Homo sapiens: one gene and its partners. The protein of the gene in region 4 purifies or fractionates together with the protein of the main gene of each other region. This does not show direct contact. Each region holds a gene or a part of one and is shown on either strand. Other genes may lie near its edges. The genes, in order: BAZ2A, IMPACT, RBM26, BTBD8, TAF8, LYSMD2 and EPS15L1.

Region 1 (4,231 bases), on a different chromosome or scaffold from region 4:
AATGGTTGGAGGACACCAGCATAGGAGCAGAGTTTAGAACTTAAGAGGACAAGAAAGCTGCTCAGTGGCTGGCGTATAGCTGTGAAGGTAACCAAACACCAAAGAGGGAGTCTGTCATTTTTATAAGGCTGGAAGCGAATGTTCCTTTTCTACCTTAACATACAGTTTAGGGGGTTGCACCAAGACAAAGTTTCCAGGCTGGAGGGTAATACATATCCAGCGCGAGTGAAGTCCCCACTCCAACATATACCCTTTTTGGGTGGGTAAACACCTCTTTGCATGTGGACAGAAAATGTTTATACTTAAACAGACATATTTTGCATATTTTTATCTGGAGACTTCTTCTAGTTTTATACTCTTCCCACATCTATGCCAATGCCACCATTCTAAAACTTACACTCCTTTTCTACCCCTGGTCTTTTCCTTGTCCTTCCCTACAACTTGGTAGAGGTCCATTTTGTCTTACTTCACACTTTTTTTTTTTTAAATAAAACACAAAAGTCTACGTCTTGGTGTCTTATCCGTGAGTGGGAAGTGGTAAGCTGGTGATGGTCCCATATTTGCTATGACAGGAACACAGAGGTGGCAGCTTAGGAAGCTGGGGCCACATCTCACAAGGCAGGACCTGGATGCACTGAATCCCCCTTTGCTCCAGCAACTCAGCCAGACATTTAGGCAGGAGCACTAATGACCCTTTCCATCCACACAGAGGGTATGGAACAGGAGCCCCTGTTGTTCCCTTGCCTGTGGTCTCTTAAGCCAGTCATACCTATCCCAACGCCGTCTCCCCCTCAGGTGTGTAGAAGGGAAGATGAATACACAGAGTCTTTTGAATCTCTATCAAATGTGGTTTTTTTTATTCAACAACTGACAAGCACTTTTCTACAGCTGCACTTGTGGAACATCACATGGCAAAAACAGGAGTTTTTTCGCTAGACTTTTTTTTTCTTTTTAACCTTATTAAAAATGAGATTGGTCCTAAAAATATAGAAAGAAATAAATTTAAATTCACAAAAAACTGTACATTATCAAAAAGTCACTAAAACACCACATTTGGTTATATAAAAAGTCCCTTTTGCTGTAAAAGGAACACAGAAACTTGTTGGTGTTGATGGTGTGGTTTCTTCCTGTCAACCAGACTGATGGGAGGGAAGCAAAAGGGCAGGGGGTGGGTTGTCTTTTTATTTTAAACCTGCTTTCCCTACCAAATACTCTTGTCATGAAGAGAAAATCCACCTAGCTCAAGGGGGCAGTGAAGATGAGGAAAGAAAAGCAAGAAATGGCCCCTTTGATCATGCCCTATCCCTACCACCCCCAACCCCGCTCCAGCCCCCACTTCTTCAAACTGAGGCTAGGACCCCACCCCGCCATATGAGTGCCTGGTCCCTAGGGAAAGAGATGGAGCTGGGAGAGGAACACAAAGCAGGAACCATGGAGATTTCACTCCCCCATCCACCTCACAATTTCACTCCCCCATCCACCTCACAATGAAATTAATCTAGCACATCTTATACCAGGGGAAAATTGCCAGGGGGAAAAAGCAGAGCCCCCAACTCTAACAGTTTCAACTGTCTAACACAAAGTTTGTTACAGCGCAGTTATTTAGATAAAATATAAATATTTATGCATAATATAAAGTCAATTCAAATATTCTTCAATCCACCTCTTAAAAGCAAAAAAAAATCTCAAATAAAATTAAAAGTTTTGAGGTTTATCTGACAGAAAAGGCGACTTTAGAAATAGGCTATGAGGGAGAAGGGGCATAAAGGAATAAAGGGGCTGCCCCAGGACCTACACTGCCCCTACCCCCTTCAGTGGCTCTTCAGTGCTGCCAGAATACAAGGAATGCTCCACCTCACCTGGCACCCCCACCCCCCAATGGAACATTTCTTGGATGCCTCAGCTCTCTGCTTGGGCCAGCCAGCAGCCACCTCCCCAGTGCAAGTACCCGTAATCTCTGAAGGGAGGGGCTCTGCTGAGCAGGAAAAGCAGGGGGCCAAGTGCCCATGGCTATAGCTGGGAGTCAGCAGCTTTCCTCTCGTGTTGGGGGCTTAACTTGGACATAGTCACATGTAGGGCAGTGATGGACCCAGAACCCCTCCTCCCTACTCTCCTGTGCTCCAGGGTCTCTGCTGCTGGGGAAGGGGTCCTGGGGTATGAAGTAAATGAAGAAAAGCACAACTAAATGGGATTAGGAAATGATCCAGTTCTACCACTCTCCCGTAGAAGCTTAAGATTCAAAGCTACCGAGAAGAGAGGGAGTTCCTGCTGAAAGATTGCACAGTCTGAAGAGGCTGGAACAAAAATGACCAGGAGAGAGACACAGCCTTGTCTCCAGAGAAATTGTTCCTGTGGTTTCCCAAAGACAAAAAAGTGATGGTTTTAAACAATGGGAAAAATGGGAATGAAAACAGGTACTTGGGGAAACTGAATGGATCCTATCAAACAATACAGGGTCACAAGCACGCACACACACACACACACACAGCGCGCGCTCTGAGGCTGACACACACACACACACACACAGCGCGCTCTGAGGCCGACACACACACACACACACACACACACACACACACACAGCGCTCTCTCTGAGGCCGGCCCCATTGCTACCTGGCCTCCATCTTAGGGTGCACCCAAACTCAGCAGTAGTTGTCCCTGAGGAGTTCCCAAGAGGGTTTGGGAAGGAGGTGGGGAAGGAGGCTGGAAGGCCCAGGAAGCCTCCCTGCCCTCTCCCCAGCTACTGAGTTTCAGAAAAGGCTGGAAACTCAGCATGTGAGGAGCATCCAACATCATACAGGGGATAGCTATCGGCAGGAAGATGGGGACAGAAGACAGGGACCTCTGAACATTTTTTTTTCCTTTGAAGGGAAAAGATTTGGGAGAAGAGAAAAGGAGGGAGGAACCCGTACACGATAGTTTTACATTATTGGATGAGAGAAAATCTGAAAACTGGGGGGTGGGAGGTGGGAAAAGAAAGACAGCGAGAAGCAGGGAAGGGACTGAACATGGAAGCAGCATGTCCAGGGCCCGGTGTCCGGCGCGACACACTTGGGAGTTAAGTCCACTTTACTGGCCGTCACTGCGGGTCCGCACACAGTACAGAGTGTTTCTTGGTTTCACACATTCACTAGAACTATTGCTATTGTTAAATAACCCCAGAATGCTGGGGCACGTACAGGGGAGGAGAGGAAGCAGGGAGGAGGAAGTAGGGACGACTTTCCCCCTCCCCATTTTTAATTAGCAAATAAAACAGAAAAGAAAAATTATTTTTTTCTTTCTTTTTTTGGCTTTTAGTCCAGAAGGACCTCATCTCTGCACCTCTTACTTGAGGAGCAAGAGGAGGGAAGGGAGAAAGGGATGTAGGAATAAGAGGATGTGGGGCACTGCCAAGGGCAAGGTCAAAAATCAGGGTTGTATCTGACTTGAGTCTGGACCCAGGGCAGCATCAGCAGGTGAAAATGGCAGGTTTTTGTTTGGAAGGTGGGGGGAGATGCCACAAGGTGACTCCCCACCTCCCTTGCCTCACAGATTGGCCTGTTTTCCCTGATAAAACTCCTCCCAGCGGCTCTCGAAGAAGCGGCGCATGATGTGCCCAGCCTTGCCTACTTCAGAGTCATCCTCGTTGAAAGTCTGGCAGTTGTCAAATACCAGGAGGGCATCAGCCGCAAACTCCTCTGAGCTGGTGTACCTGGACAGGGCAGGGGCAAAACTGTGAGCTGGGTAGGAGTTGCAGCAGTAGCAAAGACCGGGCGGTTCACCCACATCTACTTACCCTCCCCTGAGCAGCCGCTCCCGCATGGTGGAAAAATCCATAGGATTTTTGATGATGCGCCGGTACCCACTCACCAAACGTGGGTTCACAGGCTCTAGGAAAGGCCAGGCTGCATCATGGGACTCCATCTCCATCAGGATAATCCTATCATTAGAGGGACAATGATGGCTCCATCTCAGGAAGCAAATATACTGACCCCTCCCAGCCCTTTCCTCTGGCAGAGGTAGAGCCAACTGTCCCCCCAGGATTCACTCAACTCACTCGCAAAATGTGAGATCACTGTGGTGGTTCCGCATAGAGAGTCGCCGCCGCTTGGAGGGGGAGAGCCCTTCTTCCGAGTACCGAGGCCCTGCTGCTGGGCTTTCTCGGCCCCTCAACAGTACCCGGCGTCGGCGGCCATCACCCTCTGAGAAGTTCAGCGAATAACCACTTTTCCGCTTCTGGCCACGCTTTGGGAAA
Region 2 (3,362 bases), on a different chromosome or scaffold from region 4:
TTGTATTTTTAGTAGAGACAGGTTTGACCATGTTGGTCAGGCTGGTCTCAACCTCCTGACCTCAAGTGATCCGCCTGCCTCAGCCACCCAAAATGCTGGGATTACAGACGTGAGACACTGTGCCTGGCCAAAAAGTTTACTTTTTTAAAAAGGATCTTGGGAGTTATCAAGCAAACTGCCTATTTTTTCCCATCTTTGGCTGGTATTAAATATTCCAACACAATATTAATGGAGCAATCACTGATAACACTTTCCTGGATGACAATCTGACTCAACTAATCAAAAGCTATTAGAATGTACAAACCTTGACCAAGAAATTCGATATCTAGGAGCTTTTCCTAAAGAAATAATCAAAGATACATACAAAAATCTGCAAATGATGTAGGTTTTCACAGTTGTTTATAACAGTGAAAAGTTGAAAAAAACTTAAAAATTGGAAATAAGTGGAGGACTAGTTAGTATAATACTGAGAAGACAGAATACAATGCAGTCATAAGACATTTAAGCCATAGAAGAATATTTATTGACATGGAAAATGTTAACAATATACTTCTATATGAAATATGTAGGCTACAAAACAGTATATACAGTTTAATACCATTTTTATGGAAAGAAAAATAACCATATATACAAAATCATGCATAAGAAAAAAATAATATAAGGATGTACATACCAAATATTAATAATAATGGCTATCTCTGGATAGTGGAATCAGAGGGATTATGTAATTTTCCCGATAAATTTTCCTGTCCTCCAAACAGCATCCGCTTCATACTATTATTTCTTGGTTGTAATTAGTTTGATATAATTCTCTTCAGAAAGGCTCTGTTTCACTATATATACCTCAAAGCATACTTTTGATGCAGCTTCTGCAATTCCCATCTAAAAAGTAGATAACACTTGCTCTTATATTCTGGCATATGAAGACTATTTGTAATTAACACACTATAAAATATGTCAAAGCAGGCCAGGCATGGTGGCTCACACCTGTAATTCCAAAACCTTGGCAGGAAGATCGATTGAGGCCAGGAGCTCAAGACGAGCCTGGGCAACATAGAAAGACCCTATCTTTACAAAAAAAACTTTAAAAATTAGCCAGGTGTAATAGCACATGCCTGTCTGTAATCCCAGCTACTTGGCAGGCTGGAAGGTCAAGGCTGCAGTGAGCCATGATCATGCCACTGCACTCCAGCCTAGGTGACAGAGCAAGAACTCATCTCTAAAAAAAAATTTTTAAATAAAGCAAAATATGCCACAGCATAGATCTGATTGTAGAAAATTATTATATGGAGAACTGAAAAATCTCCTAATCAAGACAAAAATTTTAAATAGAGGAAAAAAATACTATCTATCATTAGTTCAAGTTTCCATTAAGAGTAGAGTGTGAAGTAGCTCCAAGTTCAGAGCTGGAGAATTTTGCATCTCTCCCTCTTACCAGCCAATTGACTTTAGGTAAAGAATACTAGAGTTTTTTAGTTAGTAAAATATAGTTAATAATTCTGTATAAAGGAGCAAAAGTAAGTTTCTCATTGTTTCCTATCTCCCTTCATAGGTTTGACATGTTGAAATTGTGAAATTATTTAATGTTAATAGTTTTTAACTTCTTTAATTATGTAAAATAATTAATTTTTAAATTATTTTAACAGTTAAAACACAAAGCATACTTTTCATGGAACCAAGTGTTCCAAACACAAAAAGGTCATTCTCTGATGGCTCCTGATAACATACAACATAAAATATAGTTATAACAAATATAATTTAGAATTTATATTTCAGAATCCATCCTGGTGTAAAGCTATTTACTATAACCTTACTAAAAATACCAACGGTAAGGATGTTGGATCTTTTAAAGGTAAAACATCAGAGAAAAGAGAAAAAGACCTGTTTGTCCAATTCTCTGTGCTTTCCATGCTCTAGCACCATCCCAAAGTTGCCTCCTAACTTCTGTTCCCTCCCTGGGAAGGGAAGTCCAGGCAAATCTGTGATCAGTTAATAACTTTTAACAATTGTTTGCCATTACATCTGAAAGTGAACAGTTAATCACTTATTGTTATATCTCAAAGGTAAATTTCACTATCTAAATGCCTAGAGGTAACTGGAAGATGAAAGATACATAAAGGTTTGATGAATAGAGGGGAAAAAATGGGGGGGAGGGTTGTTTCTGTTTTTCCAATGAAAAGGTTTGCTCCTTCTCTCTGCAAAATCTTGGAACTGAGAAAGCCGTCTGGAGTGCAGATGGAAAGCATGCATCAAATTGATGTAACTACACAACATACTCCTGCCCTACACCAGGTTCATTCTGCCACCTCTATCCCACTCTACGAATGTCCCATTTGCCACAGCCTAACTTCTATCATAGTTCTAATTCCTCAGTGAAGATCACAAGAAAGGTACTTCCAGGTTGTTAAAAGAAACGAGAATGTTACACCAACACATTTCTGGGGTGGAAGGAGACTACTGACACTCCATATTTATTGCTTACATTACAAGAATTAAACAAAAAAAGCAGACTAGAAAATCACTTTCTGTAATTTCACAATCACCAATTTGCAACAGAAACTGAAGCATAATATTTATGCTAACAAATATGTTGGATGAATTATCACCTCAGCACATAACTGCAGATGGATACTCCTGGATTTTCACTTAATCCATTACTCAATGATGAACACTATAAAATGAAAGGTGACATACTTATGAACTAAAATCACAAGAAGAAACTCTCCAAGATCAATCTTAAATGAGCTCCTATTCCAATAAGCCATAAAGAGCAGTAAAAGGCAATATTCATTTAACAGTACAAGAATCTCGATGACAAGAAATCAGGTATTTATATTCCTCTAGAGACATTTCTTCTCCACCTAACAAAGGCACTTGACATGTACTGAAATGGACAGTTAATTCAGGTACTGCCCTGGGCAACTGTTACCTTGCTAAAATTAGATGAAGTGGTGATTAAGTTCAAATTAGTTCTCCCAAATAAGCCTGAAACACACATGAATAGATCATAAGTTCTCTATTTTTGGCAGATGATATAACCAAGAAGAAAAGCTAATGTTGGTATCCATGCTGAACTGGCTGACTTAAGCAGTCAAGGATACTCTCTCTGCACAATATATTCCTTGATGACTATGGAATGTATATATAATTATAGGCAAATTAACCTTTCCTATAGTTTCAGGTATTAATGTTCATTCCTCTTCTTGTCTTTTCTTACTTTTTTGTTCTTTCCCAAAGCCTTAGATGACTCCTCCTGAAAAAGACACAAATCAGTGCAGCATCTCTCCATTTACATAAAGATGAAATCTTCAATCTAATCACTTAGAATATATTTACACATATATATTCCACATATATTCATA
Region 3 (3,500 bases), on a different chromosome or scaffold from region 4:
TTTATGACAACCTTTATTAGGTAAAAAGTTTATGATAATATGATCAATTGAAACACTAAAAATTGTATTTTTTCCTAAAAGGTAGAGTTCCATTTCATGTCCAATTTTCCCAATTCAGAATAACAATTTTTTTTTTTTTTTTTTGAGACAGAGTTTTGCTCTTGTCACCCAGGCTGGAGTGCAGTGGCGCAATCTCGGCTCGCTGCAACCTTAGCCTCCCAGATTCAAGCAATTCTCCTGCCTCAACCTCCCGAGTAGCTGGGATTACAGGTGCCTGCCACCACACCGAGCTAATTTTTGTATTTTTAGTAGAGATGGGGTTTCACCAGGTTGGCCAGGCTAGTCTCGAATTCCTCACCTCAGGTGATCCGCCCGCCTTGGCCTCCCAAAGTGCTGGGATTACAGGCGTGAACCACCATGCCCAGCCTTAAAATATTTATTTATAAAGGTAGTTTTCTTATTACATTAAGTTCCCTAAACAGAAAGAAGAGATAACAAAACCATTTCATGGCTCTTACCTGTAAGTTAACCAAGGTTCCAAATCGACTAAAATGTTCATTAAGTTTGCTGATATTATTTAATTCTGGAGGAACTTTTCTAAGTTCAAGCTTGGTATTTTCATTTCCAAATTGAACCTTCTTCTGAAAGCCTGGGCTGTTTGTTCTATTAAAATTTGGTCTGCAAACAAAATTCAAGTTAGTCAATACATTTATAAATCCTGACCCTAACCAAATACAAGGGAATAAAGTTTAACAAAATAGATATCCAATTAAGTTCAATTTTCCCCCAAACTGAAATTACTGGTTGATAAAGGAAATTTAAATTTTCTTCCAACAATGAAGTTTCCAAATGAACACTGTTAGTATCTTTCATGGAAGCCAACTGAGAAGGGTTCTGCCATATCATTTGTTACTTTCCACTTCTGATCCACCTCTACTTAACATTCCTATCAGGAAAAGTCTCAATATCCTCTTTTAGTCAATTTGCATATATAACCTTTATTCTGATTCTGTAAAAGTCAGCTTACTAAAAAATATCCTATCTTAAAACTTTATGTTTTAAATTTGATTTTAAATTTTATTTTCTTTGATGACAGTCTCAACCTCTTTCCCGCTTTATTTAAAAAAAGAAAAAAAGAATTGTTGGAACTATAAAGAATACATTTTGACACTTGAAGAAAGGACAAAACTGTGGCCTAGAGAGGTTACTCTGCATTAAATCACAGAATTAATCACAAACAACTAGAAACTATCCATTATTAAGTAGATGTTAAAGCTCTAAAAGTGATCCTAGTCTCTCTTCACAGATTTATTTATAAATGAATCACCTCACACATATCTTAACATTCTGATTCCTTACCCCTTTATCTGAAGCTCTTTCTTGACCATTCAATGCCTAGACAGCCTCTCCAACCCCCACAAAAGCCCTTTCTAGCTCCTACCTAGCAGGAACTGCCTACATATGAAAGTCTCTTGACAGGTCTGATCTATACCTCCTTCCTCTAATGATGAGAGGCTCATGACTATCCTGTATATAGCTAGTATTCAACAGGTCTAAGTTAAAGAGTGGGTTTTTTGGAGGAGGGTAAATGATAAGAGGAAAAAATTATGCCCTGAACTACCACACCATTTCTGTAAGAAAATGCTTTTCTAACATCAGACAACTAACTTGCCAATTTTTAGAAAACTCACACTTGGGGATTGCTTACAGAACAGAGTAACATTTTTGGAAGAAACCAAACCATATTGTCATAATAATACAGAAATGATCCTGAAAATCAATGCACAATTATACTCCTCAATTTTCCTGGCCACCTTACTTATCAAACCAAGTCTTCTTTGTAGGAACTCCAGGCTCTCCAGAACCAATGGTTCTTTTCCTTGATTCTGAGTCCACTACTATCCTCATACTGCTTTTATTGGGAGGCTTTTCTGTTTTAAAACAAAAGAAAATGAAAAAAATAAGCATAGGTTAATATTTTCTATTTATCATAGATACCTTCCTCATACAGGAAAATTTCTGGCTTTTGTCTAAATATATATATATATATATAATTTTTTTTTTAGAAGAAATAGAAATAAATGTATAGTAGCTCCCCCTTATCCAGTTTCATTTTTACGATTTCAGTTATCTCTAGTCAACCACAGTCCAAAATTATGGAAAACTACAGAAATAGTAAACAATTCCTAAGTTTTAAACTGCCTGCAGTTCTGAGTAGTGTGATAAAATCTCACACCATCCTGCTCCAACACTTGATCTCATCATGTAGGCATTTTATCATCCCCTATCATCCCAAGAAGGGTAAATACAAAAAGATATTTGACAGAGAAAGACAGGGACCATTCACATAACTTTTATTATAGTATATTGTTATAATTATTTCATTTTATTATTAGACATTGTTGTTTAGCTCTTACTGTGTCTAATTTATAAGTGAAACTTTATCACAGGTGTGACTGTATAGGAAAAAGCATAGTATATGTAGGGTTTGGTACTCTGTGGTTTTACACACGAGGAGTCTTGGAACATATCACCCACAGACAAAGGGGAATTACTGTACATTCAAATACAGTAATCTAAGGGTTTTTTCAAACTTATTTCAACATATTCATTTCACAATTAACTATGAAAAAGAATCAATTCTCACATGCCAAATTAAAATGTGATTCTGTAGGTCACTTCTTTGTAGATAAAACCCAAGTCATTGTTCCCATCTACCATCACCCTCACCACAAATATATATATATATATCAATGCACAAATGAGAAAATAATCACTTTGAGGCTTTAAGTTCATAGTTTTGAAATCAAATGCACAATCTAAAAGATTCAAAACTTTACACTAATCCAATAATCTTTGAGAAGTGAAAGGTTAGAGTTATGATTGAAGTGAGCTGCTTTTAAATATGGAATAGACTCATAAAATATGAATGTAATGAAAGCATACTTGCTTTAAAAAAGGAAAAGATTCAAGTCTAAAATACAGTGTAAAAGAGCTGTAAAAGTCTGTTACTTTCAACATTTTATATTTACTTACATGGCATGTAATGAGCATAGTACATTTAACCTGTTATTCCCAAATGACTCCAAAGTTTAAAACATGCAAACCTTAATCCACATAGAAAAATGTAACTTAAAAACTCCTTTTTTATAGATGGCAAAATTGATTTGTCTAAAATCCTATTTTTACATATTTCTAAACACCTAACTAACCAAAAGAACTGAAGATCTGTTTCAGCACAATATCTCTCATGGCCACAGCTATGGTCTCCTGCAGGAGGAGAGCATATACTCAATTCTAAATTTTCAACTTCTTTGTTCTCTCTGGAAATCCTACAGGTATCTCAAAACTCACTATGCAGAACGTTCAAATTATTTTCATATTAAGTCTATCTTTTATTTTTCTTAAACATTTCTATTAATGAAACTACCATTTTCCCAATCATCCCAGTCAAGTCATATTTGATATATGACTACCCACATATGCCATACATACAGAGA
Region 4 (3,500 bases):
TCCACAAGGAGGGTAATAATAAAAAAATACAGAAGATAACAACAAATGTGCCGAGGATGTGGAGAAACTGAAGCCCTTGTACATTGCTAGTGGGAATGTAAAATATTATAGCCAGTTTGGAAAACAGTTCAGCAGTTTCTCAAAAGGTTAAACATAGTTACCATATATATAATCCAGCAATCCCACTCCTAGGTATATACTCAAGAAAAATAACACAGGTTCACAGAAAAATTTGTATATACGTATTATAGCAGCATTATTCATCATAGCCAAAAAGTATTAATAGAAACAATTTAAATGGCAACGAATGGATTAACAAAATATGGAATAGCCATACAATGAAATAATATGCAACAACAGAAAGAAATAAAGTACAGAATGAAGATTAATTTAAACTAGTTTCTCCCATTATTTAGCTGATGACAATTCTGAGTTCAAACATGAGTCCCCAAAATTACTAAAAAGTCAAATTGATGTTCTGTTCTCAAAAAACAATTTGACCAAATACAAGTTACTATGGTCTGAATGTTTGTGTCCCCCCAACCCCAAAATTCATATGATGAAACTTAATCCCCAATGTGGTGGTATGAAGAGGTGGGACATTTGAGAGATGATTAGGTCATGAGGGCTCCATCCTCATGAATGAGATTAGTGCTCTTATAAAAAAGACCCAAGAAAGTTTGTTTATCTCTTTTGCCATGTGAGGGCACAGAGAAGACGCTATCTTCAAGGAACTAACCCTCACCAGGCACTGAATCTGCTGGCACCTTGATCTTGGACTTCCCAGGCTCCCGAACTGTGATCAATACATTTCTATTGTTCACCAATTACCCAGTCTAAGGTATTTTGTTATAGCAGCCCAAATGGACTAAGACATAAGCCATGAGAATAAAAACAGTTATGACGTTATATTTTTATAAATATACATACTTTAAAGTTTCACATGCCAACAATACAGAGTGAGTACGTAGCAACGGTTCTCAAGAGGGGGCAATTAGGACCTCCAGAGGACATCTGGCAATGTCTGGAGACATTTCGGTCACAACTAAACATCCTAAAATGCACAGCATTGTCCCCACAACAAATAATTATACAACCTGAAATGCCAGTAGTGCCACTACTGAGAAACCCTGGAATAGAATAATTCATTTAAATTACTGGAGAGCACACCATTTCCCTTTTCTCAGGATCAGTCTTAGGTTAATGCTTAGCCTCTACCAGTACTAAGCTAATATTGTACTACCAGTACTAAGCTAATATTAGTACTACTAGTACTAATATTAACACTTAGCCTCTGTCAACACTAATTACTAAGATAATTTGGAATTTAAGTGAATGGATTTTTCTTATCAGGTTACAAAATACATATGAAAATATATTAAATAAAAACATACATGTTAAAAATAAGCAATTACATATTAGACTTACATGGATAAAGAAAGCACTTACTGTAAAAACGTTCTAAATTCTAAAGCTTCAACATTCTCCACAGCAATAGGCTCCTGATTTGTTAAACTATTTGATGTCTGTCCAATAGTATGAAAATAGAAGTCAGGAACTCTTGCTAAAAGGACTGCTTTGTGTGCTTTGAACAAAGTACAACCCACAGAGAAGGTAACATCTGTATGGAATTCTTCCCTTAGAAGCCTATAAGGAATAAAAAGGAATCATAGTTTAATTAGTGATACTAAAAAACGTATACATATTTTTATAAAGTAGGTTTAAAATAACACATAAGCTAAAAAATACAGAGGCAACATAAAGTTAATACAAAAATGAGTTTGTTCTCAGTTCATTCCAAAAAACATTGTTTAACATTGGCTTAGAGCCTAATTTTCTAAAATTCATAGTGAAAACAAAGACAATTTCACTAAAAGAGTAAGACTACTGTTTCAAAATATTTACTTATGAATTCCTTCTGATAATAAAAAAATATTTTCTGCTACTTATGTTGATTTTCCTTTAGATATACTATCTTCTTTAGATTTATTTTTAAAATGCAAAGTTGACATGATCATTAATTATTTAAAATAATCAATTTTTTAAAATCTTACTTAAATTGAAGCAAAAAAAAAGTTAATAGTTAATGACAGCAACAAACCACACATATCAGTAGAAAATTCAGGTTAGAAACTGGTACTTAGTTCTGGCTAATGTTAATTAACAAGTCTGAAATCCAGGTGTGGCTGTCAAAAATGTGACATTTACTCTCTTTTCCAGTCTCCCACTCCCACAAATAGAATTATGCTCTAATCTATCATTAAAATGATGGATTCGTGATCCTTTCAAATCCCTTTGCTAATGTACAGATATAGTTCTTGTAAAGCCCACTGATTACATGTATACGTGAGTGATAGAAGAATAGAAATCAACATAATAGAAAATGTCATAATATAATCTTTTGCCTCTTTGCAGTAACTATTTTACTCTCTAAATATTAAATAAAACTTCATATCACTATAGCAATATCATCAGCAAGGTATGCATTCTCAGAGGACTTCTGTATTACAGGATATATAAAACTGGCAATAATACCAGTACACTACAGGAGGTACAAGTAACTGATAAAGATACCCATTACAGTGAAAGCTTGGAAAGCAGCCAATGACATTCATACTCCCCCAGGACCAAGTTAATGGCTCCTTCCTCTAATCCCATCACATTCAGTACATACCTCTATTATAGCATTTCTGTCATTGCATCATTATTATTTTTACATGTCTTTCTCCCCACTAGACAATGAACTCCCCACGGACAAAAACTGTATCTTCAGTATACAGCAAGAGTTCAGTATCTTCTTATTAAATGATCCTATTTTACCCTAGACAAAACAAATGCTTCAGAGCATAAAAGCTTTCAGAACCTTGAAAATAATGGCCAAATAGATGCATCTTAGTTTGGTCAATATTTTCAATAAATTATTTTCATAAGTAATTTTTAAAGTTACACAAAAATGTGTTGGACTCTCAAACTTTAATTGAAATAGAAACTCTACAAACACTCAATTTGTTCTTTCCTCCCACCCTCCTTCCCCCCATCCCACCCCTCAAGTGAATAAGGAAGCACTGCAGCTGGTAGCCATACAACCATCAGGAGGGAACCCACCTTGTTGCTAACAGATGCTCATGAGTACTTGCTAAATGGAAAAAAAAAAGTGTGTATAAAATTGTTAATGTGAAAATACAGTGTTTTTTATTTGATAGAACCATTTTTATCAGTTTCAAGTATATTTTGTTATGTTACAAATCTGAAAATCTGACTTAGACTGGCTTAAACATTAAGGAGTTTATTGGCCCATCGAATAGTAAAGTCCAGAGGAAGGACAGACTGGAGAAGTCTCAATGATGCCAAGGCCCAGCTTCTTTCCATCTCATATCTTTGCCCACTACTGTATTCACCTATCTTAGTCCATTTGTGCTGCTATAACAGAATACCACAGGATAGGTAATTTATAATGAACAGACATTTATTGGTTCACAGTTCCAGAGGCAGGGAAGTCC
Region 5 (3,500 bases), on a different chromosome or scaffold from region 4:
GACCCAGAGATTTGTAAAAAAAAGTGGGAGCAGAATGGTCCGTCAGGAGCTCCCTGAATTGCCTGTGAGCTCTAGCAAGGCCTACACCCTCTGTGGTGACTGCATCCAGTCTCCCAGCTCTCAGTGCCATCTCTACGCCAACAGCTCCCTGGAGTACAATGCCAGCCCTAACCTCTCCCGACTTCCAGGCTCATGCAGCCAGCTGCTCACTCAGCATTTCCACTGGGGTATCAGGTAGGCAGTTCAGACTTCAGGCACCTAAGTCTGAATTGGGGACCTTCCCCTGTGGTGTAAACGGCGCTTCTCAGTCCCTCCCATCACAAGTGATGGCAACTCCATCCTTCTAATGGCTCGAGTCACAAACTCTGTGGTCATTCTTGCTTGTTTTCTTTCTTTTATTTTTAAACAGGGTCTCACTATGTTGCCCAAAACTGGACTCAAATTCCTGGGCTCAATCTTCCTGCCTCAGCTTCCCAAGTGACTGCAACTATGGGCATGCACCACCACACCTGGCACACTCCTTTTCCTTCACTGACATCCCATACCCAATCTGTTAGCACAGCCTCTTGGACTTACCTTCAAAATTCAGGCAGGCACTGACCACTTCCACCACCTCTGTGGCAACCACTCTACTTGGGCCCACCACTGCCTCTCGCCTAGGCTATAGCGACAGCTTCCTGACTGATCTCTCTAGTCCGTTCTTACCGAGCCATCAGAGTGGTGCTTTAAGAAGCTCAGAAACATCCCTCCTCTGCTCCACGCCCTCCCACAACTCCCATCTCTCTTAGTTAAAAGCCAGCTCTTAAAATAGCCTACAAGGCCCTACCCAATCTGACCCTCCCTCCCACAAGCCACTCACTATTCCACAGGGCCTTTGCACTGCCCATTCCCTCTGCCAGAACACTCTTCCCCAGATATCCACATGGCTCACTCCCTCACCCATTTCAAGCTCCTGCTCAGATATCCCCTTCTCAGTAATGCCTACTCCGAGCACCCCACTTAAAAACTGAAGACTCCTCCTCACCCTGGATCTTCCCCTACTGTTTTTCCCCCACACAGCACTTTCATTTCTGATATACTATGCAACGATTTAGTCATATATTGTGTTTGGTATCATTCTCCCACAGCCAAACTCTGCTCCTAAAAGGCAGAGGTTTTCTTTGTTTTTCTCACTGCTTTATCCCAAGCAGCCAGAAAAAATATCTGGCACATACTAGGTGCTAAATAAACACTGGTTGAGTGAGTGACTGGTATATTTTTCATAAAAGAGTAAAAGCTTAGATATCTGGGTTGGCTGCAGAGAGCAGCTGGTTCAAATGTGTGAGAAAAGAATCTATTATACATGAATTTAAATTATACATGAATTTAAAATGAATAGCTCCTTTATGTTCAAGTACATGGAGAAACTAGAACCAGGTTAAATAATGTACTGCCTAACAACAGACCTTGAGAGGTGCACTCTCATCAAGAGATAAAATAATAATTTAAAATACCTGTTATTGGCTGGGCGTGGTGGCTCACGCCTGTAATCCCAGCACTTTGGGAGGCTGAGGCGGGCGGATCACGAGGTCGGGAGATCGAGACCATCCTGGCTAACACGGTGAAACCCCGCCTCTACTAAAAATACAAAAAAATTAGCCGGGCGTGGTGGCGGGCGCCTGTAGTCCTAGCTGCTGGGGAGGCTGAGGCAGGAGAATGGCATGAACCCGGGAGGCGGAGCTTGCAGCGAGCCGAGATCACGCCACTGCACTGCAGCCTGGGTGACAGAGCGAGACTCGGTCTCAAAAAAAAAAACAAACAAAAAAACCAGTTATTTACTTTGCTATAACAATGTCTGTAAATGGTAAAGACAGAAAACAACCTAAGTGTTCATGGGGGACTAGATAAATTAAATGGTTACATCCATACAATGGAAGATAAAGTAGCTGTGAGGAACGATGCGCCTCCTCCCTTACAGATGTGGAATGACCGCCAAGATACAGCCAGGAAAAAAGCAAGAAGAGAACAGTTTGTGATCTGCTGTTTCAGTTCAAAATAACAATTTAAAAAAATGTCTCTAGAAGGCTACATAAGAGGCTGGTGAGACAGTTGCTCTGTGGGAGGGAAAGTGGGTAACAGGGAACAGGATGGGAGGGATTGTCACCATACATCTTTTTGCACACTCTGCATTTTGAAACATATGATTGTATTTCCTAGTCTAACAAAATAACATTAGGTCCAACTGACTGTAGTAAATTGTCACTAGAATCTTTGTCTTGGAGTCATTTGATTTTATTTTTCACAGAAGGGCATATGGTTAGATAGCCTAAAACAGCAGGGGAGGGAGCAGTGTGTGCTAGGAGCTGCCACATGCCAGGCACCTGATAGATACCAGCTCTGTCTCACGCTCCCCCTGTCCCTTGAGGTAGGTGTTTCTGTTTCTACTTACAAGAAAATAGACTAAGGCGTAAAGTAACACAATCACGGTCACACATGTGGCAAGCAGCACAGCCTGGATTTGAAGCTAGGCAAGTCTGACTCTAAGACTCAGGCCTTCCTACACTCCTGCTGTCTGCAACCCTGGCTTGGCCTCATGGTATTCAAGAGTCCTCAGGCGGTTGCTGACACTCTTTAGGTTCAATTACCACCATGACCTCACATCACTACGGGACCGTCAGTGAATGCATGTCCAAGCCCTTTAACTATATTGTACTTACAAAGGTATGATGACGTTTGTTTACATGATTCCTCTTTCTCATAAGGTGAACCTCAACTTAGTCCATGACCCAATCACCATATCTCAGCCCAAATTAACAGAAGCGTACAATAACAATTTCCTCTGCTTTATTTAAAGCCATGGTCTCCCAGCCCTAATTCTGAAAGGAATAATTCAATATTTAAAAAAAAAAAAAGTATATCCAGGCCGGGTGTGGTGGCTCACGCCTGTAATCCCAGCACTTTGGGAGGCCAAGGAGGGTGGATCATGAGGTCAGGAGTTCAAGACCAGCGTGACCAACACGGTGAAACCCCGTCTCTACTAAAAATACAAAAATTAGCCGGGCGTGGTGGTGCGTACCTGTAATTCCAGCTACTCAGGAGGCTGAGGCTGGAGAATCGCTTGAACCCAGGAGGCGGAGGTTGCAGTGAGCCAAGATCTTGCCACTGCACTCCAGCCTGGGTGACGGAGCGAGACTCTATCTAAAAAAAAAAAAAAAAAAAAAAAAAAAAAAAAAGTATGTCCAGGCAAATAAGACCTTCAGCAAATAGAGATGACACAGGCATATTCCACTAGCAACCCAGGGTGGCTGGCTGCCATTTGGGGTATCACATCTTAGAGAACATAAGGGATGCTCAGTCCAACTACAGCCACTAAGGCATCCAAACTAGTGCTGATTTTAAAGGATGGTTGAATATGGCAACCTGACTATATAACCCTATTAGCCTTAAGGGCATTCCAGCTTCTGGCGGTTCTGCGATTGTACTTGGCACTTTCTCCAAGGGTGCAGGAACAAGAGGGGGCT
Region 6 (3,500 bases), on a different chromosome or scaffold from region 4:
ACAATGGCCTCACAACTCTGTAAATTTACTTAAAGTCATCGAATCGTACACTTAAGATGGGTGAATTTTGTGGTGTACAACCTCAATAAAGGTGTTTAAAAAAATAATGAGAATCTACAAACACCCCGAATGACTAAAGGCTACTTTGCCATACCTCTCACTTTTGGTGGCTCTATTTATAGTTATCTTCTCTTTAACTAGCAAGGGTCAGCAATCTCCACCAGCAGCAGGGGTTAAAGTTATGAACACTAAAGATTTACATGCACCTGAGTTTCTAAATCACAATGTTTATTCCCCCAAAAATGACAATCATTTCACCTTTTCTCAGCAAGGTAACTTTCGTTAGCGGAAATGTTAAGCAACAACTTGGCTTAGCAGCTAATTGGCAGAGGAAGAGAAAATCCTGGGAATAAAACTGGCTAGGAAGTAACTGAGGGTACTGCGGGGTGAGGTGGCCTCTGGAGAGGGAAAAAGACAGGCAAGCTGCCTGGAGGAAGCAAAGAGAAAAAAGAAAAAGTTTATGCAAATCATAGGTCCACCTGGCTGCCTCCTTTCCACTTTCAGTTTCTATATGGCTCTCTGGAGGTTTCTCCAGGGTTTCTGCACAAAAATTCACGGTGGCAGCCTAGAGCTGGTCAATTTCCTCCAGAGGCTTGACTCTAACTGAGAGGAGCCAGGATCACTGAAAAAGCAATAGCTAAATCTAGAATACAGGGTTAGGGAAGGAATCTTAATGTCTCAGTGGAGATAAACACACCCAGGGGAATGCCAGGCCAAGCAAGTTTACGTCTGAGGTTTGAACTATATTTAACGGTTACTCAACCCACCCCAAGTAGTTTCAGTTTCCCAGACCCACTTCCTCAAATGCCTCTTCCTCTGGTAGAGCTGCTCAAGCCTAAACTTATATGTCATTCCATGTAAAGACCCACTGCTGGTGGAGGGGAGGAGATGAACACTGAGCACCAGCAAGGGCAGCAGTCTTTTACAGATTTGAGAATGAGCCTCAAACCAAATCTTGCAGTTCAAGTCTTCAGCAGGCCACACCTCTTCACTCAGCCCCTGCCCTGGATCCTGACTTCCAGGGTCCGCTCAGCTCCATGGCTAGCTACTTCATACCAGTCAAGCTTTCCTGTGGCTGAAGTCCACATGTATGCGGAGAACTCACAACATGCCAGGCTCCAGGCTAGCCACAGAAGATACAAACATCAATGAAACAAATTCTCTGGCTTCTCAAGTAGCTAGAAACTACTAGAAAGCAGTAGCTGAAAAACTCACCATGAATAAAAAGAGAACAACATGTATTACCTTCTAGCCCCAGCATCTAGCCCAAGGCCTCAAACCAACCAGACTCAATAGAAGTTGGTTAAGAAAATAATGAATGCCAGTTTTTAATGGCTATTAATGGCTAAAAAGGTGATGGTAGGAAAGAGTCATAATGATCTTTCCTAAGTCACTAGCAGAAGAACTTGGGTCCATCAGGTGTCAGGCCTAGCCAGCTTCTTGAAACTCCAGATTCTTCTTTCCCATCCCCAGGATGCCCAGGCCCATCTCTAGGGGAGAGATATTCAAACTAAACAGTAAACAAACAAGCAGAACATTTACAGCATATCAGCAAATCATCCAGACCCCAGCCACATCTCACCACCTCCTTCCTTCTCTACTGCTTTGGTCCCAGCTGCTATCCTCTCCCACCTGCATTACTGCAAAAGCCACCATCTTATCTGGTTTCCTTGCTTGGTACTAGCTTCCCTACAAACTATTTTTAAAGCAGCAGCCAGAGTGATCGTTTTAATACACAAGTCAGATTATGTCACTCTTCGGCTCAAACCCCTTAAATGCATCCCAACTCAGAGAAAAAGACAAAGCCCTTACAATGGTCTTCAAGGTCCAAAGTGATCTAGTCCAACTATACCCCACTGCATTCTAAGCACCAGCCACAGTACTCCTGGAAGGTGCCAATTATGTTCTCACCTCAAGGCCTTTGCACCACTGGTTATTCCTTCTGCCTGGAATGTTCTTCACCAGATATCTGCACAGCTCCCTCCCTTACCTCCTTCTCAGCAAGGTCTTCCCTGGCCACACCATTTTAAATTCCAGCCATCTCCACGAGCCCTCCCCAACTCCCTCTCCTGCTTGGTTTTTTTTTCATTATGCTTATCAATATAAGATACATTTTCTTTTTCTACTTACTGTCTCCACTAACTAAAATATAAGCTCTATGAGGACATGGATTTTTATTTACTCACTATTGTATCACCAGAAAGGTAGCTCTGAGGGAAAGAAAAAAAATTGGATGAATGATAAATACTGTTAGGAAAACATGGCAGGGAAGTTGGGGAGGAGCGCTGGGGGACTAGGGAGAAAGGCTACAATTTGACATAGAGTGTGCAGAAAAGGCCTTAAGAATGAGATATTTAAGCAAAGACTTGAAGGCAATGAGGGAACAAATCACTCAGCCAGAATCAGCTCCATCATTCGCCCAGGGCCAGTAAAAAAATATGAAAATGTGAGGCCCTTGTTCACAAACTATTAAAAATTTCAAGAGATGACAGTAGAGCATTAAACCAAGTGTGAGGCCCTTCTAAGCATGGGGTCTTCTGTGACTGCGCAGGTCACATGCCCATGAAGCTAGCCCTGTATCCAGCTATTAGAGAAAGACAGATGGAACAGCAAGTGCAAGAACCCCAAGGAAGAACAGTGCTTTGGGAACAAGCAAAGCAGCCATGCTTGTTAAAAATGGAGACTCTGGCCAGATGCGGTGGCTCACGCTTGTAATCCCAACACTTTGGGAGGCCAAGGTGGGCAGATCATGAGGTCAGGAGTTGAACACCAGCCCGGCCAACATAGTGAAACCCTATCTCTACTAAAAATACAAAAATTAGCCGGGCATGGTGGCGTGTGCTTAAAGTCCCAGCTACTCGAGAGGCTGAGGCAGGAGAATAGCTTGAACCCGGGAGGCGGAGGTTGCAGTGAGCCAAGATCAGGCCACTGCACTCCAGCCAGGGTGACAAAGTGAGCCTTTGTCTCAAAAACAAAAACAAACAAACAAACAAAACAGAGACTCCTAGACTCCTTTTCTGGGTATTCCAATCCCATAGATCCAATGTCAGCTAGGATCCTTTATTTTTAGTTTGCCCCAGAGTATTCCTGTCCTGCCCAGGCCAATTTGAGGAACATGGATCTATTCTCACATCCTGAGATATGCCCTGCTGCCAGCCCTTCAGCACCACTTCAGAAAATGGCTCCCAGCTTGTTACCCTTGTAATCCAGGGCTGGCAACCAGGTCTCCATCTTCACCCCCTTGTCGGAGTCTCTGTTCTGGGAACTTCCTTGTACCTAGACTACGACTGGCTCTTAATCAGTCTTCCACCAAAGGACTGAAGTCCTGCCTGACACCCAGCTGGGTGGCTGAGGAGTTGCCATGGAGAGACAGGCTTTCCTGAGAGTTTCTGCTCATCTGTGCAAGATTGACAGACATGGTATGTTAAGGTCAACTGTTT
Region 7 (3,500 bases), on a different chromosome or scaffold from region 4:
TCCCAGCTGCATGAAAGCCGCCAGGAGGCCCACAGGAGCCTGGAGCAGTATGACCAGGTGCTCGATGGAGCCCATGGTGCCAGCCTGACCGACCTGGCCAACCTGAGCGAAGGCGTCTCCCTGGCAGAGAGGGGCAGTTTTGGAGCCATGGTAAAGGTTGAATAAACGTATTACAGTATGGGGCTCTGGTCCCCTGGTGTGACAGCAGAACATCCCACCCGCCAGATCTGTTCATGGCCAACGTTGGTTCCAGCCAAGTGCAGGCGGCTGTCTGTTGTTTTTGCTGCCACTTTGCGCGTTCACACCAGGCCTTGCAGCCTGGCACAGGTGGCCATGCTGAATCCTGGCTTCCAGAACAAAGTCCAAGATAGGCCTGGATCCTTTCAGAACCTGTTTTGAATGCCCTCCATCTCTGCGGAAGTATTTACATTGGGCCAACCACCCAAGTTCAGAGGGCTTCTCAAACTTAACCAAAATTGGATCAGTTTCTGCTCATTGTGGAAACCCCACATTCTACTAATCAGGGGGCAGGGGACATCTGAGGGGCATGTGTCTATGTGTATGTGTGTTTCCACAAGGAACACCTTGAAAAGCAAATGTGTTGCTAAAGATGAGGAAGTAATGGCAAGCAGCGCCCCAGGGTGTTGCTCTTTCAAGTAAGAATTGGCCTCTCCTGAAATTTTGGTTATGTTTAAAAACCTCTGCACTTTACTCTGACCTCATGACCCTGGAGTTGTGATCAGGCCTGGGGCAGGGGACTGTCGGCCCCTTACATTTTTGAGAGCTCTTGAGCCCCTGATACCAAGACAGGTGTGACCTTTTCCTTAGGTGGTCACATCCCCCCTGTTCACACCAGAGTCTGCCCCTGCAGCCTCGAACCTGGGGACATGTAGTTTCCCATTTCGTCTTGGTGCTGTTCCGGGAGCGGATGGGCCGGGCCGCGCATGTCTGGATGTTTCCTTGGTGCTCTGCTGCCTCCAGCAGCTCTCTCCGTGCTGCCACCCTCTCTCCCAGGGCTCCTCCCTGGAGCCCTTCTGCTCCTGGGCCTCTGTACGTCATGGATTCCTCTTCCTCCCTGGAATAAGAGTGAGCGCTCGTGCTCTCTAAACACCACACTTGCCTCTTTATGTTCAATGCTTGATGTGTTTCTTTTCTCAGCAGCCAAGTCCTCAGTCCCAAGGATTTATGGGGAAGCACACGCGTCCCCTGGGCTGCTGGGAAGGCACTGCTGGCGAGCTCATCTGTCTCTTGTGTCTGGCCCCCGCTGGGTGCACCGCCTCCCTCTTTCCTCCCATACTCTCTTTTCTCGTGGACTCGTAATGAGGTGGTTTCCATAGCCGCCCCCGGGCCCGTCATCATCAGCTTTATCGTCTAAATTTAAACGATGAGCATTCATCCTTCATGAGTTACGAGAAGCCAGAACTCCTCGCTTTGCTCCCTGGCTGTTCTTGGCGTGTGTGTTTCCGTCTCACAACCCGGCTCCTACTTTCCCCATCTGGCATTGTCCCCTGGCACCGCTTTTGGCTTGTCCTGCTCAGTCTTCGTTCAGGGAACAGCTTCCTCTTAAATGTCCCTTTTGCAGGTTTTTAGAAACCGGTTTTCTTGGATAAAAGTTGGCAGTGAAGTGGCAGTTTGCAAGTGGCCAGTGATTCCCCCAACTCCAAAGACAGATTTTTACCTTTCTGGTTATTTTTGTTCATCTTTTGGGCAGGGCAAAGGTTACCTGAGACACAATTACTTTGGGAATGTAGATTAAGATACGTTACATGGAAACTTGCAACTGGCATCCGAAAGAAAAACTGTTTTTATCCTGTTGTACAAATACAGTTTTTAAAGCATTTTTCTGGCTTGTTTCTATTTCTTAATAAATACTTGGAAGAGAGATTTTTGTTTACTCCTGAACACTTCAAGACTGCTTCAGAGCCGAGAGAGAGGTGTCTTAGTTCTCCCTTGTGGGTCGAAGTTGGGGGTTTTAGGTCCCTGAGAATAGTGTATCCACAGTGGTACATCTGGAACTTCCTATGTTTGGACAGTTCTACTCAGGTTACTAAATTCCATGTGAAGCTCACGCAGTGTGACTTTATCTCAAAAGTCAGGGGTTTTTTTTTTTTTTTGTTTTTGTTTTTTTTTTTTTGAGACGGAGTCTCGCTCTGTCTCCCAGACTGGAGTGCAGTGGCACAATCTCAGCTCACTGCAACCTCTGCCTCCCGGGTCCAAGTGATTCTCCTGCCTCAGCCTCCCGAGTAGCAGAGATTACAGGCACGTGCCACCATGCCCAGCTAATTTTTGTATTTTTAGTAGAGACGAGGTTTCACAGTGTTGCCCAGGCTGGTCTTGAACTCCTGACCTCAGGCAATCTGCCCGCCTCGACCTCCCCAAATGCTGGGATTACAGGCGTGAGCCACCTCACCCGCCAAAGTCAGGGTTCTTAAAGCCATATTTATTTCTTGTCTATCATCTGATTATGAGAATATTGACCTCTTGCTCACCATCCAATCAACTTATGGAGAGAAGCTAATAAATCATCCCAGACTTAGGCCTTACTGAGGACAGATTAAGAAAGGTTGATTGATCTGTCACATCCAGACCCAGTGGCATGCTGGAGCCAGTTTTTATTGACTTTCCAGAACCGATTATTAAATAGGAACTGGCCGGGCACAATGGCTCACACCTGTAATCCCAGTCCTTTGGGAGGCTGAGGTGGGAGGATTGCTTGAGGCCAGCTGCGTGCCACTGCACTCCAGCCTGGGTGACACAGCGAGACTCAATCTCTAAAAAAAAAAAAAAAACCCCAAAAAGCAAAAAACAGGAACTTGTGAGCTAGTTGCTTGGAAACTTGAAATCAACCATGATGAGACTGTTTACACCACAGGAATTGGCAGAAGCTCTAAACCAGGGCTTTTTTCTGAGAGAACTGATTCCCAGCACACCCCTGCTGCCCAGCACTCCTCTAAAGGGCGGGAATGTCACAGAAGCTTCTTCAGCCCCCTTTCAGAGTTGCCGTGTGTATTTCCTAAGAAGGGTACAACTTCACACTGGTTGCTGAACTTGTTCAAGATATTACATCTCTGCCAAGGGCCGTGTCATTCATCCTGGCCCTTGTCTGCTGTACTCGTGTCCCCCAAGTTGGCAGATGGGTCTGTTCTCCTTAGTAGGTGGTCTGCAAGGGGTAGAGTTGATGGTATCTTTGTAACAGGGAAATCTCGTTTCCCACTCTGATTCTGTGCAATGGAATCAAAACCACTATTAGTTACCCTGACCTCCTGAATCCTGCTGGGGTCTCAGGCTTCCCCTTGGAAGGGGAAGGAGTGATTGTGGCTTCAGGCCAATGACTCCTGAGAAAGTGATTGCAGGCCTGACTGTCAGTGCAGGGGGCTTGCAGCCAGCATTCCCAGAACCTCAGTCTCTTCTCTGCCATTGTTCACTGTTACTTGGCAGTCTTCCAAGTGACGACTGAAAACACTGAAAAAAAAAAACCTTATAAATAAATGCCAATTAAA

What was found.
Region 1: the proteins of BTBD8 (region 4) and BAZ2A purify together in Homo sapiens (affinity purification with mass spectrometry; one large-scale study listed by BioGRID and IntAct). This does not show direct contact.
Region 2: the proteins of BTBD8 (region 4) and IMPACT purify together in Homo sapiens (affinity purification with mass spectrometry; one large-scale study listed by BioGRID and IntAct). This does not show direct contact.
Region 3: the proteins of BTBD8 (region 4) and RBM26 purify together in Homo sapiens (affinity purification with mass spectrometry; one large-scale study listed by BioGRID and IntAct). This does not show direct contact.
Region 5: the proteins of BTBD8 (region 4) and TAF8 purify together in Homo sapiens (affinity purification with mass spectrometry; one large-scale study listed by BioGRID and IntAct). This does not show direct contact.
Region 6: the proteins of BTBD8 (region 4) and LYSMD2 purify together in Homo sapiens (affinity purification with mass spectrometry; one large-scale study listed by BioGRID and IntAct). This does not show direct contact.
Region 7: the proteins of BTBD8 (region 4) and EPS15L1 purify together in Homo sapiens (affinity purification with mass spectrometry; one large-scale study listed by BioGRID and IntAct). This does not show direct contact.

What each region holds. Positions count from the first base shown.
Region 1 is NC_000012.12:56,595,096-56,599,326, forward strand, and holds the end of BAZ2A (bromodomain adjacent to zinc finger domain protein 2A), read right to left. Parts: coding exon 4,034-4,231; intron 3,917-4,033; coding exon 3,773-3,916; intron 3,689-3,772; coding exon 3,523-3,688; 3' UTR 501-3,522; downstream 1-500. UniProt on the Homo sapiens protein: Regulatory subunit of the ATP-dependent NoRC-1 and NoRC-5 ISWI chromatin remodeling complexes, which form ordered nucleosome arrays on chromatin and facilitate access to DNA during DNA-templated processes such as DNA replication, transcription, and repair.
Region 2 is NC_000018.10:24,450,670-24,454,031, reverse strand, and holds the end of IMPACT (protein IMPACT), read right to left. Parts: intron 3,254-3,362; coding exon 3,185-3,253; 3' UTR 501-3,184; downstream 1-500. UniProt on the Homo sapiens protein: Translational regulator that ensures constant high levels of translation upon a variety of stress conditions, such as amino acid starvation, UV-C irradiation, proteasome inhibitor treatment and glucose deprivation.
Region 3 is NC_000013.11:79,357,756-79,361,255, forward strand, and holds part of RBM26 (RNA-binding protein 26), read right to left. Parts: intron 1,932-3,500; coding exon 1,820-1,931; intron 679-1,819; coding exon 519-678; intron 1-518. UniProt on the Homo sapiens protein: May be involved in the turnover of nuclear polyadenylated (pA+) RNA.
Region 4 is NC_000001.11:92,086,845-92,090,344, reverse strand, and holds part of BTBD8 (BTB/POZ domain-containing protein 8), read right to left. Parts: intron 1,648-3,500; coding exon 1,450-1,647; intron 1-1,449. UniProt on the Homo sapiens protein: Involved in clathrin-mediated endocytosis at the synapse. Plays a role in neuronal development and in synaptic vesicle recycling in mature neurons, a process required for normal synaptic transmission.
Region 5 is NC_000006.12:42,071,024-42,074,523, reverse strand, and holds part of TAF8 (transcription initiation factor TFIID subunit 8), read right to left. Parts: intron 3,178-3,500; coding exon of another isoform or gene 3,056-3,177; intron 1-3,055. UniProt on the Homo sapiens protein: The TFIID basal transcription factor complex plays a major role in the initiation of RNA polymerase II (Pol II)-dependent transcription.
Region 6 is NC_000015.10:51,731,156-51,734,655, forward strand, and holds part of LYSMD2 (lysM and putative peptidoglycan-binding domain-containing protein 2), read right to left. Parts: intron 706-3,500; exon of another isoform or gene 1-705.
Region 7 is NC_000019.10:16,398,971-16,402,470, reverse strand, and holds part of EPS15L1 (epidermal growth factor receptor substrate 15-like 1), read left to right. Parts: coding exon 1-150; coding exon of another isoform or gene 151-165; exon of another isoform or gene 166-1,882; intron 1,883-3,500.